2 separate regions of the Homo sapiens genome follow, and region 1 is linked to region 2. Evidence: fine-mapped expression QTL. Tissue or cell type: NK cells. Region 2 holds a variant in brackets; the other region holds the start of a gene. All regions are shown on one strand. Distances are from middle to middle.

The links. PIP is the estimated chance that this variant, and not a neighbour inherited with it, causes the effect.
Region 1: ADCY9 starts here. The variant in region 2 is fine-mapped to the expression of ADCY9 in NK cells (Gilchrist 2021, PIP 0.93).

What each region holds. Positions count from the first base shown.
Region 1 is chr16:4,113,423-4,121,523 of GRCh38, forward strand. ADCY9 (adenylate cyclase 9) reads right to left here and starts at 3,020. Exons shown (of 11, transcript NM_001116.4): 1 at 2,268-3,020; 2 at 328-2,063. The coding sequence starts at 2,020. RefSeq lists silencers at 1-164, 3,158-3,227.
Region 2 is chr16:4,004,746-4,012,846 of GRCh38, forward strand. It overlaps ADCY9 (adenylate cyclase 9), which reads right to left. Exons shown (of 11, transcript NM_001116.4): 3 at 2,623-2,813. Among named protein-coding and RNA genes, the nearest start is that of TRIDDENT, 58 kb to the left of the region's middle. RefSeq lists enhancers at 6,353-6,998, 6,999-7,643. The variant T/C (reference allele first, on the strand shown) is at 4,693.

The DNA of each region.
Region 1 (8,101 bases), 110 kb after region 2:
TGAATGCTGAAGGGCTCCATACCCTTACATTCACCGGACGTGCCCCCACATTTCAGCCAACCAGTGGTTATGCACGTTCAAAGTTCTCCTTCCTTCTAAAGGTCGCGTCTAGGTCATCTCTGCACAGCGTCCCTTTCTGCAGTGTGAACAGATCTGTGATATTTGACCCGCTGAAAGAAAAGTCACACTGACCCTGAGATCCCCCCATGGTAAGGCATTCTGAGATACCTGAGCTGTCTGCAGACACTGAGGCTGGAAGCTTTTTTTTTTAATTTAATACAATCAGGATCAGGGAGGGGGGATGCCGAGGTAAAGCAGTGCACATACCTTTCAACTGGTCAGCAACCACGCTCTGGCCCAGCCGTTCAATAACTTTCCCATCTTCCATTTCGTACCGGTCATCTAAGTATTTTGCGGTGGCCTCAGAAATGTGAACTTTGCCGGCCACTCCCAGCTGCTCCATGAGATTGGCCAGGTTCACATCGTTGGACCACACGTCAAATTTAAACCTCCTCATGCCCAGGATGCCGCAAAGGACGGTGCCCGTGTGCACCCCGACTCTCATGTTCACCATCTCCTTCTTCTCCTGGCAGAACTGCTCGATGGCCTTGATCATGCCCAGGCCCATCTCGATGCAGCAGTAGGCATGGTCGGCCCGGGGCTCGGGACAGCCCGCCACGCAGTAGTAACAGTCTCCCAGGGTGCTGATTTTCTCACACTTGGTCTCCTCACACAGGCGGTCGAAGCGACCGAACAGATCGTTCAGGAGACCCACCAGGGCGTGGGCAGACTTGTTGGCACTCATCTTGGTGAAGCCCACGATATCTGCAAATAAAATACTGACTTCTTCGATCTGCTGCATCTTAAAAGGGCGGAAGGCTATAGGAGCTTTTTGGATGGAAGACTTTTTCTTCCTGTTCTTGGGGCTCGAGGTGGCATGCCTCTTGACAGAATTCTCACTCTCCTCATCTCCCTGCTTCATTAAGTCATCGGCTATGATTCTTGGCATCACGGAATGAATCATCCTCTCTTTGAGGGCTTTTTCCACTTCCAGGTCCTTCCCGTGCATAATGGATTGCCCCACCTTGAGGAAGGTGCTCCTGGACCTCACCTGGGACATGACGAACAGGTGGACCCCGATGGCGTGGATGCAGCCGTGGAGCAGCCCCCTGCTCAGCAGCTCCCAGTGCAGGGCCCCGGCTCCGGGCGAGGGGAAGCAGGCTTCATCCCGGAAATGGTAGCCAAAGGTCTCGAAAAGGACAGAGTAGGCCACCCCCAGACACAAACTCAGGTACAAAGGTAAGTGCATGACGGTATAGAGCAAAAAGAGCACTTCGATGCACATGGAGAAGCTCCCCACTTGAGATAAGCAAGTATCTGTGGGCCGGGCTGTGGCCGTAAGGTTGGAGCTGTCGCCGCGTCCTGAGACAGGCGTCAAGACCTGGAACTGCGCAGCCAGGGTCAGGGCGAACACCAGCAGGGTGAGAGCCAGCGAGGTCCACGCGTAATGCCGGGCGTACAGCTTGGTGAAGGTAAACAGAAAGAAGCCCACACACACCAGGAGGAAGCACAGCGCGGGGGCGACCATGACGATCAGTCTGGATCTCATGTGGACCGCAAAATAGATGCTCCACAGAAGGCAGGCGAAGCCGATGTAGAAGAGCGCATACCGGAACCGGCGCTGGGTCTGCGGGAAGCAGCGCTCCAGGCAGGCCTCCTCCAGGTTCACCGAGTCGAACTTGGGGTCCCACCAGCGGCTGGAGGCCCTCTCGAACAGCTGGGGCAGCTTCTTCTGCCTGCGCAGCCGGCCTCCGCCGCCCACTCGCCGGGGGACGCCCCCGGAGTCCCCAGAGCTGCTGCAGCTAGAGGAGATGCTGTATTTGCAGTGCTTGGGGTGGCTGTTGGAGGACAGCTGCTTGGGGTTGATCTTGACGCGCACGCTGTTGCTGTCCCCGCTGGAGTCGCAGCTCACCTCGGTGCTGTGGTGATGCAGCAGCTGCTGGTGGGGTGGGGAAGCCATGTTGTCGAGTCCCGGGGCCTGCCCCGGCCGGGGTCACCAGTACCTGCCAGCAAAACGGGGAGAGTTAGCGGCGCTCCCACCTAGGCATGCACGCCTAGAGGCCCGGGACCTGCTCCTGTCCTAAGGGGCGGCTCCAGCACGCGACCTGGACAGGCACCATCTGTTCCTGTGGTTCCCGGCTCAGCGGTGCTCCCACCGCCCCCACCGCCCCCACCTTCGAGGCGCACGAGAACCGCTCGGGACGGACCTAGAACGCCCGGGGGTCCCCGCCGCGTGGCCGCCGTGGCTCCGGGACCGCTTTGCTCGCTCGCCTTCCGCGCCTCTCGCCCCGAGGGTGGCCTCCGCGCCGCGCGGCTTCTCCTCCTCGCGCGCTCGCCTCCTCCAGCTGCGGCTCCGGAGGGAAGTTCAGACCTTGAGCGCTCCCAGCCCCGCGAGCCGCCTGCGCACAAACAACTCCGCTGGCGGCGCGGAGCCCTCCATCCTGCAGGAGCCGCGCTCCGATGCGTCAAAGGCGGCGCGCGGCCGGCCCCGGGCCCGGACCCCGACCCGGAGCAGCGAGCTTCGGCGGGCGCCCCCGGCTCGCGCTCCCCGGCCGCCCCCCGCGCTCCGGGCCGGCCCTGCCCGCGGCGGCGGGCGCTGGGGGTGGGGGCGCCCCGGGCTGCGAGTGCGCGGAGCCCGTCGGCGCGGCCCGTCTAGTGGGGCCTGCTTCCCCCCGAGTGCGCCGCCGCTCCCGCCGCGGCCGCAGCTGTCCCGGGACCGAGCGCGTGGAACCACGGACGCGGGCCCCTCGCCGGGCGGCGGTGCAGACGCTGCCGCAGAGCCGGGCTCCCGCGACGCCGGCCGGGACGCCCGCCCGCCCGCGCCCACGCCGGGGGCCGCCTCCCCGAGCTAGAGATGCGGCCGCCGCCGCGCCCGCCGCCGTGTCCCCCGCGGCCGCTGCCTCATGTCGGAAGAGCTGCCGCCGCCACCATCTCCGGCCCCTGCCCCGCCCGCTGTCACTGACAGACGCGCGCCCGCGCCGCCCCTCGCCCAGCCGCAGCGCGCACGCGCGGCCCGCGCTCGCCGCCACCGCCTCCTGGCCCCGGACACGCGCACGGGCCGCGCGCCGCCCCGCCTTGGTGCGCGCGCTGGGCTGGGGCTGCGGGGCGGGGCGGGGCGGGGCGGGGCGCGCGCTCGGCTCCGCCCCCCGCCCCGGGCGGCGCCGCTTCTAGGCGGCGGGCTGTGGCCGCTGTCCGCGCTCCGGGCGCTGTGGGCCCGCCCTCCCTCGGCGTCCCAGAGGCCGCGCGCCGCCCGGGGTCCCGACCCTGCGGAGAGACCTGAAGGCGCCTGCCGTGGAAGAAGCCGCTGGCCGCAACGTTTGGGAAATCAAAATGTTGCCTTCCCACTCGGCACGCCTTTGGGATAAATCGAAGTTTCCAACCGTTGGATTTCCCTCCCGGGAGGCTCCCCTTGCTCTGTAAGCAATGAATGCGGGCCCCGGGGCACTCGGCCTGCCCTGGACCTGCTCACGGGGCGACCTTCACGGGCCTAGCCTCCAAAGCTGGGCCCACCGACGACCACGTTCCCCCGCCCCAGGGGTAGTTTACCTTGCTGTCCTTGAGCCCTTCTCCCCCTCCTCATGAACTACTGCTTTTCCTTTTACACAAATGAGACTTTCAAAGGAGTCCGCGTCCCATAATGGCAGTTGTGCATTGGCCTCCATAAACATTGCCACGTGTAAATAAAATCCTATTCTCTCTAGCATGCAGATCCCGACCCCTTCTCCCCACACTCCACAGTGCCTCCTGCCAGTCACGGGGCTCTCTTCCATCCCCTCCCTCGCCTCCCAGGCCCAGCGCCGGGGCCCACACCAGGTCTCACTGTTGAATTAGAAAATAAAAGTAAAATGTGATCTGTCCATGCAATGGAATATTATTCGGCTACAAAAAGGAATGGAGCACCGATGCATGCTGCAGTGTGGAGGAACCCGGGAAACGTTATGCTAGTGAAAGAAGCCAAACAAAAAAGGCCACATAGCGTATGATTCCATCCAGATGAAATGTCTCGAATTGGCAAATCCGTAGAGGCGACACAGATTGGAGGTTGCCAGGTGCTAGGGGAGGAAGATAAGCAGCTTGGGGTTTCGTTTTAGGATGATGAAAAAGTCTAGAAATGATCCAACAGGATGAATCTACATACTGCCCTTGAATCATACACTTTAAAGTGGTTTAGGCCGGGAGCGGTGGCTCACGCCTGTAATCCCAGCACTTTGGGAGGCCGAGGTGGGCGGATCACCTGAGGTCGGGAGTTCGAGACCAGCCTGACCAACACGGAGAAACCCCATCTCTACTAAAAATACAAAAATTAGCCGGACGTGGTGGCACATGCCTGTAATCCCAGCTACTCGAGAGGCCGAGGCAGGAGAATTGCTTGAACCCGGGAGGCGGAGGTTGTGGTGAGCTGAGTTCGCACCATTACACTCCAGCCTGGGCAACAAGAGTGAAACTCCATCTCAAAAAATAATAATAAAATAAAATAAAGTGGTTTAAATGGTAAATGTTATGTTGAGTGTATTTTACCACAATAAAGGAGGAAAAAACTAAAAGCAACATATTGTGGTGGTATTCCTGCAGAAGTGTGTAATCTCAATCCAATCGCAAGAAAACACCAGACAAACCCAGATTGAGACCTGTTCTACAAAGTGATTAACCAGTACCCATCAAAAGTGTCCTTGGACACTTTGGGTCTTGAAAGACAAAGACTGAGAAACTGTCACAATCTAGGAATCGTCCCTAAGGGGATAGATACAACAACTAAATGGAACATGGGATGCTGGTTGGGAACATGGAACAGGAAAGGACAGTAGCAGGAGAGCGGGCAAAATTCACATAAGATCTGCAATTTCCTGGTTCTGATCCTCTTACTATGGTTAGGTAAGACGTTAACATTTTTAGGGGAAGCTGGGCCCTGTGCAGTGGCTCACACCTGTAATCCCAGCACTTTGGGAGGCTGAGGCAGACAGACCACCTGAGGTTAGGAGTTCAAGACCAGCCTGGCCAGCATGGTGAAACCCCCGTCTCTACTAAAAATACAGAAATTAGTTGGGCATGGTGGTGTGCGCCTGTAATCCCAGCTACTCAGGAGGCTGAGGCACAAGAATCACTTGAATCCAGGAGACGGAGTTTGCAGTGAACCGAGATCATGCCACTGCACTCCAGCCTGGGCAACAGAGCAGGACTCCATCTTGGGGGAAAAAAAATTAGGGGAAGCTGGATGTAGGATACAGGGAAACTCGCTAGTATTTCTGCAACTCTTCAAGTCTAAAACTATTTCAAAATAAGTTTATCTAAAAATTTAAAAAATAAACCTTTAATGAACATCAATTCTATGCCAGGCACTCTCACATACGAGGTTCAGAAACGCATGGTGTGTCACATGCATTCGCTTAGTAAATGGGATAACAATAGTGAACTAACATTGACCGAACACGTCATAAATGCCAGAAACTACTGGACATTTTCACCTGTGACACATTTGGTCATTGCCACAACCCTCTGAGGTAGATACTATTGTCCCTTGTTTAGAGAGGTGAAACCCAGGATTGAAGAGAAACGCACCCTAGGTCTCCCACTAAGGGTGATGAGTTCAGATGGAAAACCAGGTCTCAGAATTCTGAGGCCATGACGCCTTGTGTGACCCTGGCACTACCCTCTGCAAGCCTCACGATGGCCCAGCACAGACTGTACCTGTCTCATCCATCAGCCCAACTGGATGGGAGGCCCTCAGAGCCAGGACTCACAGCTTCCGTCTTCCCTTGCTGGCTGCAACGCTGTGCTCCCTGCTTCCTGGTTTCCTGAAACGATCTGAAAGCTTGCCTGTCTGCACTTCTTTCCTCCTCCCTAAATCATTTGTGGTAACTTATGTGTTTGTAAGTTAGTCACGTCGGATTTTTAGACACAAGTAATGGTCATACTCACCTCCCTACTTCTCTGGAAGCAATTCGGCCACATTGCCTGCTGTGGAAACCTATAAGCTGACAAGCCTCCCCAGTCTCCAGGTCAGGGAGTGAATCATGCCATCAACCCCGGGGGACTGGGGCTGTGGTGCCAGCACTGTGTGTCAGGCCCTGGAGGTACAAGGATATGCCATCCATATCTTTTCTTTTCTTTTCTTTTTTTTTTTTTTTGAGACGGAGTCTCGCTTTGTCACCCAGACTAGAGTGCAATGGTGCGATCTCGGATCACTGCAACCTTTGCCTCCCGGGGTTCAAGCAATTCTCCTACCTCAGCCTCCAGTGGAGCTGGGATTACCACCATGCCCAGCTGATTTTTGTATTTTTAGTAGAGACAGGGTTTCACCATATTGGCCAGGCTGGTCTCGAACTCCTGACCTCATGATTCACATGCCTTGGCCTCCCAAAAGTGCTGGGATTACAGGCGTGAGCCACCGTGCCCAGCCGCCATCTGTTTCTTTAAGGGGCTTAGGAACGATGTCCAGGGGAGGGGTTGGGTTAAGAAGATGGGATCAATTAGGCTTTCTGAAGGATTGGATGTGAAGGAGAGTTCTATAAAGGAGGTTAACCATCTTCTCATAATGCCAAGACCCAAAGGGAAGTCACTGGAGGGTTCTGGGTTCTTCTTGACCTCCCAGAAGCATAAAGGTACCCGATTCACAGAAGATACGGGGCAGATGCAATAGCTTTCTTCAAACATCCAATCCAGGGTGCTGCCAAATCCACAGAGAGTTTCTTTTTTCCATCTGTGATGTGTACAGAACTCCCACCTGGACACAGTGGGAATCAGAATGTGTCCATGAAAACTCTGCAAAAGCTTGCAGAATGCCTTGCCTGCCTCAGTGTCTCCTCCTCACCCTCCCTCACATGCAAATTCACATGATGGGTGAGGACCTTGGCTCCAGGATATCAGAGGTCAGACTGGGTGGCAACCATGACAGGCTTTGAGATAAGTTGCATAATGATTGAGTTGTAGCCATTCTCATCACACCGGCCCCTGAGGACTCGGCAGTGCCTACGTGATTTCATTTGTCAGGTGGACCACAATCTTGGAGAACCATCTGCTGGAAGATGGGATTCCCTGCTATGGCCTGATCATGCGTCCAAAACTGCAGTTACAAGCTTTGAGTCTTTTTCTCTTTCAACTGATGAGGGTGAGTTTGTAGGAACGTACCTGCTTTTTTTTTTTTTTTTTTTTTTTTTTTTTTGAGATGGAGTCTCACTCTGTCACCCAGGCTAGAGTGTAGTAGCATGATCTCAGCTCACTGCAACTTCCATTTCCCAGGTTCAGGCAATTGTCCTGCCTCAGCCTCCCAAGTAGCTGAGACTATGAGCATATGCCACCACACCCAGCTAATTTTTGTATTTTTAGTAGAGGCAGGGTTTCACCATGTTGGCCAGGCTGGTCTTGAACTCCTGACCTCAAGTGATCCTCCTGCCTCGGCCTCCCAAAGTGCTGGGATTATAGATGTGAGCCACACGCTTGGCCTTTACCCACATTTTTTCTCTACCATTGACTGCTGTTCACAAGCCTCCAGCAGCTACCTTCACATTGACAGGAAGATCAGGCGTCTCAGCAAAGCAAAAGATCCTTTGGAGAAGATCACCAAAATACCTGCAGGTGCCTCCATAACCAGGTGTATTCCATCTAGCCACATCCATAGATTCTACATCCAGCCATGCCCAGTTTAGAGGCCAATACAAATTCATTGAATGACTGCATATGGGAGTTATATTAATATATTTTTATTTTTTTTTAATGGGTTCAACCAGGAGGCGGAGCTTGCAATGAGCCGAGATCTCGCCACTGCACTCCAGCCTGGGCGACAGAGACTCCACCTCAAAAAAAAAAAAAAAAAAAGGTTTCAAGAAATTCTCCTGCCTCAGTCTCCAAGTAGCTGGGAATATAGGCATGCGCCCACACACCCAGCTAATTTTTGTATTTTTAGTAGAGACAAGGTTTCACCATGTTGGCCAGGCTGGTCTCAAACTCCTGACTTCAAGTGATCCACCTGTCTCCGCCTCCCAAAGTGCTGGGATTACAGGTGTGAGCACCCAGCTGGCAATCACATTTTAAGGCAAGGAGGTGC
Region 2 (8,101 bases):
GACAGACTGAAGGGACTGAGAATTTGGAGACGAGGGAACAGCGTTATCAGCTGCGGAGGCACGGGAAGGCGTGGTGGAGCTGAACGGTGAATGCAGACAGGAGTTCAGGGGAAAGAGAAGCCATGAGTATCTCAAGTGAGCAGCAGCAGGAACAGGACACACGTGAAAATCTACGCATGCTCCTTCAGGGAACGTTTCCTGAACACCTTTTCTCTAATGTATTGGTCCTTGGCATGAAACTCCTTTTACTACATGAGCATTCCCCCAAAAGGTGTGACCACATTAGCCCTGCAAGGTGCAGCTTGAAAAAAAACAATTGTGCTCAAAGAGGCCTGAGAATGCTGTATATACCGCGTCCTCCTCTGAAGGCCTAGCTACTGTCTACTAGCCTAGTGAAGGCTCCGAGAAGTCCTGCAGTAAAGAAACCCTTTCTGTGTTGAATATCCCAAGCTTCCCGAATTTACTTTACCACTGAGCACCCTCCTCCCTTTTTTTGGAGACAGGACAAGGTCTCACTCTGTGGCCTAAGCTGGAGTGCAGTGGCAAAATCATAGCTCATGCAGCCTAAATTCCTGGGCTCAAGTGATCCTCTTGGCTCAGCCTCCCAAGTAGCTGGGACCGCAGGCACAGGCCACCAAGCCCAGTTAATTTTTAAAATTTTTTTGTAGAGATGATGTCTTGCTACGATGACCAGGCTGGTCTGGAAATCCTAGCCTCAGGCATCCCTCCCACCTCGGCCGCCCACAGCACCAGGATTACAGGCGTGAGCCACCATGCCCGGCCTTCTGTCAACTTGATAGATCACAAGATTCTCAGAAACTTTCAACAATATTTGGAAAATCTCCACATGCCAAGAAGATACGCTAAATGGTTTTTGCTCATTCCGACCAAAACAAATATATATGACTAGAGTGCAATGTAGTGTAGAATCGCCATTGCTAAAACCGTGGTCACTAAACCCGTGAGCATGTGATATGGTGAACTCTGCGACCGCATCCCCTAACGGACAGAAACACACATATGTGGAAGCTAAAATGGCAAACACAACGAATTATATATTTTTGGCTCGGGGCTGTCTTTCACGACTTAAATACAGCTCAGTTTGCAGGCTGGAGGAAACAATTCTTCCCCAAATAGCAAAACCATTCCCGATTCCACCCCACGCCAGCCCCTCCCTGCCCGGGTCCGCTGTCTAGGAGCCCAGAGCTCCATTTTCTGACTCCTGCACAACGTCAGCCCAGGCAAGGCGGCTGTCTCTAAAGTTTGCAGGCATCCAGGGAATCTCAGATACATGAGCTTTACACATGTGCCAAGAGTACAGGGAAGAGAGGGTCCAACACCACTGTCCCGGTGGTTTTCACCCAGGGGTGACTCTGCACCCCCAGGGGACACTGGGCCATGTCTGGAGACATTTTTGGTTGGCACAGCTGGGGAGTAGGGTACGGGTGGGTATGCTGCCATCTGGCAGGTGGCGGCTAGGGATGCTGCCAGCCATCTGACAGTGCACAGGACAGCCCCACAACACATGACTACCTGGTCCAAAATGCCAGCGGTGCCAAGGTGAGAAGCCCTGCATTACACTAACAAAGCACCCAACGACCGCGATCCACGAGCGGAGTTGACAGAACCCGAGTGCAATCATTACGTGTAACTGGGCGACAGGCACTATGTATTCTGACCCAGTAAGTAATCTGCATACCCCAGCTGACTGCCACATAATGAAGACTGTTCCTCGTAAATACCAATAGCGGCTTTCAAACCTGTGAATGAATGTGGAGAGGCAGGGACGTATTGGGTGAAGCTGTAACCACTGGCCGCCATCCTCACACATACCCCACTGTGTTATCTGAGAACACAAAGCAGCATAGGAGAGCTGTTTTGATTCTCTGTCTCATTTTAAGAATGGAGACAGTAGATGTTTAAACTATAAAAATAAACAGAAGGTACCAGTGGGGAAACTAAATCAAATGTGAAAGCAAAGGAACAGCTCATAAACTGAAATGATTTCACACACCCAAGGTCGACCGCGCCAATTCCCTGGTAGTTTATGATGACAGGTCAGTCCAGAAACGGGCACTTCTAGGCAGCTACCAGGAGATCCCGGTTCCAATAATGAAATACTACAATGTTCTCGGCAGCCTGTCCTCTCAGTGAGCTGTGTCCTAGGATTCACCCACACCAACATCATTTCAAGTAATCATAAAATAGTGGATTTCAAGAGACGTAGAAGTATTTGAGAAAGTGGTCTCTGAAATCAGATTATCAACTAGCTCTCCACCCAAGGTGCCAAGGAAAGCCACCTTTACTGTCATTTATCACCAGCTTCTAGAAATCCCAAAAGGCACCACAGGTCCCAGGAAGAGAAAATAACTAATAATTCAAATGAGAAGCATCCTTGTGCAATGGAAAGGCAATGGAGGTGCGTCATATGTCAAAAAGCAAGGATGTTAAAAATGCAGAATGCTACTAACTTTAGACTAAATATTAAAATCGTGAAAACCAAATCGAAGGTCATTCCAAGTTGTTTGCCTCAGACCTGGAGGCTGCTTATTATTTCACGTGCTCTACTGCAGAATTAATAGAAAGTTTTAGAAGTAGGAAAAAAAAAACAAAAAAACTAACCTTAAGGTTATCAAAGGTTTTGACAGTCTGCGCCAAGTCACTGACATTCCCTGATGACGCTGTCCCCTGTCCCCTAGGGCCTGAGGACACCTGTGAGCCGTCAATGACCTCAAAGCCAGAAAGCAAGGCCTCTGCACAGCTGCAGCGAGACTCCTTGGCTCTCTGACCCGATATCAGGTATGTCTTCAAACCTATGATGGATAAAAGTTACAGTCAGCACAGATTGAAAGCACCGTCTGTTGAAACGCAGCTCCGTCTTGCTCTCTGGAGAGGACTCACTCCTGGAAAGTTGAGAGTAAAGTGAAAATGTGAATAGGTCATAGTTTACGACGGACGTCCACGATCTCTCCAGAGAGATGCGGCCTCAGGGAGACCGTGGGCCCCCGAGACACACCACTCACCCACGTTACGTTTTCTTGGAGTAATGGCTGCATGTTTCATGTTTTACCTTCAGGGTTAAAATAAGCATTAAAAAGTTCCTCCATGAAAGGGTCCCAGGACCTCCCCGTGAAGGCAGCAAAGCAGATTGGTTGACCCTAGACACTGCTTTGGTTTATTTCCATCTGTGAATACCAGTCCAGTGAGTACCTTCCTAACGGTCAGTCTAGACGTCATGGCAGCTTCCGGTACTGACCATCTTACCTGTGTCAGAGGCTGCAAAACTACCCCGAAAAACAAGACCCTACCAGGGACCAAGAGGCCATTAAAACCTCCCCAGACTCAGAGCTGTTGAGCATCTATTTCCTGTTGGATTCAAACACTCACCCCAGGAACATTCAGCTTTTGTTAAGCTGAGGTCCACATGCATTTTATTGTCTCACAAAATCCCGCATATAGAAAAAAAAAAAAAAGGTGGTCAAAAGGACACTTGACCTGTATCTTTACAATTCTCCTTTGAGGCTGAGCTAACAGCCGGACCCACACTGCGCTGGAAGGAGCTGTGAACAGGTGGGTGGATCCTGCCCCGGGAATCTGCTGGGAAGATGGCAAAGGAGCAGCTTTTCTAGAAAGAGCCCAAGGAATTTTTGAAAAAGAAGCAAACTTTATTTAAAGAAATCCATCCTTTGACTTCACTGGAATTTAACCAGATGGCAAATGTATCGGAAGGAGGGACAATGTAATTTAACATTTAAATAACATTTATTTCAGGCCTAGTGTATGCCACACACCGAGAATAAAATCATGAACAAAGCAGGGTCCCTTCTTTTTTTTTTTTTTAATTGAGATGGAGTCTCACTCTCTCACCCAGGATGGAGTGCAATGGTGCGATCTCAGCTCACTGCAGCCTCCACCTCCTGGGTTCAAGCAATTCTCCTGACTCAGCCTGTGAGCAGGCAGGTGTCCACCACCACGCCTGGCTAATTTTTGTATTTTTAGTAGAGACAGGGTTTCTCCATGTCGGCCAGACTGGCCTAGAACTCCTAGTGATCTGCCCACCTTGGCCTCCCAAAGATGACAGGTGTGAGCCACTGCACCCGGTCGCAGGGACCCTTCTTGAAGGGTTTAAGCTCCAGCTTCAGGTCGTGAAGGGTGTGGCATGGAAAGATGCCATCGAGAGGCGACGTGTCTACAACACTGATCGACTCTGGCTTCTTACGCTGGGTACATATTTGGTCAGCGCTTTAAAATTAATTAATCAGAAACCTAGGGACTACTTCATCAATAATCCCGAATCATTTTATAAGTATGGCCCCATCTCATCACTTCACCTCCCTCTCTCCTTGTAAAAATACTACGTGGCTAATCTTTTTAAGTCAACTGTTCTGAGAATTTGCCAAGAGTCCTAGAAACACGTAAAGACAGCCTAGAACGTAGCCAGGTCATAGCTGAGAATCAAAAGACTTAGATATTTTTAGATGCCAACTGGCCCCAAGAAACTCTTCATGTTTTGTTTTGTTTTGTTTTGTTTTGTTTTTCCTTTAGAGATAGGGTCTTGCTCTGTTGCCCAGGCTGGAGCGCAGTGGTGCAACCATGGCTCCCTACAGCCCCCACCTCCTATAGCCTCAGCCTCCTGAGTAGCTGGGACTACAAACGTCCGCCACTATGTCCAACTATTTCTTTCTTTCTTTT[T/C]TGAGATGGGGGTCTCACTGTGTTGGCCAGGCTGGTCTCGAACTCCTAGACTCAAGTGATCCGCCCATCTTGGCCTCCCAAAGTGCTGGGATTGCAGGTGTGAGCCACCACACCTGGTCCAATGAAAATCTTTCACTCTTACTTAGCTCCTGAACTTTTGTGCATTTTTTTCTCCAACAAAAACCCACATCCCAATTTATGCACAGGATCAATCACGACTGTAACATGTATACACTGAAATGGAAACGTGAACTGGAATACGACGCAGGAGTGAAGCCATCTTTATACTAATTTCTCGGACCTGTCCCAGGCGACACCAGACTGACTTTGTAACTTCACTTTGCCAGAGTTAAAAAATGCAACCTATGTGGACTCAAGAGAGGACAATGAGCTGCCAGGGCTTATACCCGCCTTCATCAAAGAAGTACACGCAAGGAGGCCTGTCCTGGGGCTGCTCTAAGGGTCTCCTTCCCATGACTCCTGAGTGTGGCCCACAAGTCACCAGGTGGCAGGGTGGTGACAGGAGCCACTGACAGCCAGTGTGACTGTGGATGGCCACTCTGGAGACCGCAGTCCCCACATACTGAGAGAGGAGGGACATTTTTTTGATGGGAGGTAGGAAAAGTTGCGGCTGAAGGATGAGGTTTTCCATTATGTCTGTGGCTGGCCCTGCAAGGTGCTGTTGGCTCAGGGTGCCCCTGCCTGAGGCTACGGCTCCCCATGCACAAGGGCTGCCCTGGGAGCATGAACTGGGCTGCCTCTGAAACCCAGGAAGGGGCCCTCACCCAGGTGACTGCGCACCTGCTCCCTGTGTGGCTCCGGGACTGCAAGAGAAAGTCAAGATGGCCTCTCCTAGAAGTGCGTGGCAACTGAAGCTGAGAGAGGCTGAGCAGGGAGGCCTGAAGAGCTGGAGCACGACGGGACAGCCAGCACATTCACAGCGCTCAGCACGGCAGTCCACGGGGAGCACGGAGTGGCAGCGGCGGCCTCTGCTCACAAGCTGGGCACGTGCCTCAAGCACATCTCCAACGTCTGCTGTTGCTTTTTTGTACTGGGATTACTGAGTCACTCTTAATTCATCAAACATTTATTAAGCACTTCCTGTTTACTACACACTGATGGGTGCAGGGACGATGTGTGACTATTTTGGCCGAGATCGTGACCTGTGTGGAGCCCATTACCTGAAGAGGGGCCAAGAGGACAAGCAGGTATGACTATGGTCAGGCGTGCCAAGTCCCAGGACAAGGAAGGACGGGTGCTCCAGGAAGCACAGGAGGGGGCATCTTGAGAAGCCTCAGGAAGGAAGGGGCTGTGGCTCGAACGTGTCCCCTCCAAAGTTCAGGCGTTGTGGAGTGAGAGTCTTAAGGAAGCAGGGCTTTAAGAGGTGACGAGGCCAGGAGGGCTCCTCCCCTGCGATGGGATCAGGCGCCTGCATAAAGGGGCTTGCTGTAAGGGGCTCTCTCGCTTGCCCTCCAGTTTCCTTCTCCCTTCCAGAAGATGCAGCCCTCCCCAGACACCTGAACCTGCTGGTGCCTTGATCTTGGACTTCCCAGCCTCCTGAAGCATGAGGACAGAAATTTCCGTGCTGTATAGATTACCCAGCCTATGCTGTTCTGTTATTGCTTCACAAGCAGATGGAGACGGACGGATCAGCACCCTCCACACGGAGAACTGAAAGACGGGGCGAGGTCAGCCCGGCAATAGCAAACCAGGCCAGGGGCGGGGGTGGCTGACACCAGGCAGGGGGGTTACTAGAACAGGTCATGAAAGGCCCTCTACAGAGGTGGCCTGCAGCAGGCATAGCTAAAGGATGGCTTGGAGCTCAGTGTGGCTGGAGCAGAGAACGTGTGGAGGGAATGGCCAGGGCTGAGCCACAGCACCTGTGCAGGGCACTGTGTGGGCCATCCTGGGAAGCCTCCATTCTGGGGCCACGGGCAGCAGGGGGGCGGGAGGAGAAAGAAGAGCCACATAGGAGGCATGAGGCGTAGGACAAGCCAGGGAGCCGGTGGAAATGCCAGCCACAGCGGGTGGGAAGTTGGGAGGCACGGGAGTCAGGAAATAACAGTGGAAACGGGAAACCTACTCCCCACAAACTGCTGGCGAGAGGCAAGGCTCCCATTACAAGCAACCAAGCGTGATGGGCGAGGGCCTGGCTGCTGGAGGGGGCCTCGGAGTCGGGTCCAGGTCCGCCCCCTAATCCCGTGATCTAAGTGAGCTGCTTCATCTCTGCCTCTCAGTTTCCTCATCTCTAAGGGGAGGGCAGGAGCAGAGCTAGTGAGCTGCTTCATCGCTGCCTCTCAGTTTCCTCATCTCTAAGGGGAGGACAGGAGCAGGGCTAGTGAGCTGTTTCATCGCTGCCTCTCAGTTTCCTCATCTCTAAGGGGAGGACAGGAGCAGGGCTAGTGAGCTGCTTCATCGCTGCCTCTCAGTTTCCTCATCTCTAAGGCGAGGGCAGGAGGAGGGCTTACCACACAGCTCGCATGTGAGGCTTAAATGATCAACACGCACGCAGCAAGCACTCGACATTAGCTGTGATTATCGACGCAGTGTTTGATCTGCGTATCACTGGAATCTTTTTCATGCACCTTCTACATACAAAAGCATTTGCAAAACTGTTAAATCAATAATTGCTCCTGATTTGTTTCTGACTTGAGTTTTTCTTTAGGAAGCGCTGAATGACCAACCCATAGTGATAACATGATCCTACTAGCTTTACGAAGGTCAAACACACCTCCGTGTCCACAACGAGCAAAATCGGGAAGTAAATTATCTTTTTATTTATGCTTCAATATGGAAAGCTAAATTTAAAGTGAAACCTTTTGTCAGAACCAGAAGGGTTATCACCCTGACAGGTAAGGCAGAGCCCAGCTGCCTAATCACAAACGCCTGAGAAATACATCAGGACAGGTTACTGAGTTCAAGCCCAGCGAAAGTCTTAAGTCAGGAGACTCTGCAGGCGACATGATTTAATGAATAACCACACACATGGACCCTGGGGTCCAAGTTCATTAGAATGGCTCTTTTGCAGCAGAAGGTCCAAAAAAAAAAAAAAGACAGCTAAATGATTTAAGTGTAGTGTAAACAGGAGAATAATTAATATGATTTCTTATATTCTTTCCTGGTTATCCATTGATTTTAAACCTCAACAACAGCGATGTCTTTTATCAGCTTAATTTTACAAAGGCTACAGAGAGGGGTGGGCATTTCCTAATGGGCTCCTGTCTGACGGGGGAATTTGTCTATGGCTGTGTGCGTGGAGGTTAACGCAGTTAACGTTCTTAAGTATTCTTAAGTATAGTGTCACTTCTTTGAAAACTAAAACTGCACTTTGCACATAGTGGTGATCAGGTTTGGTGACCCAAGTATAGGAAGAGTGACTGACAAAGCCCATTTTGGAAAAGAGTGATGG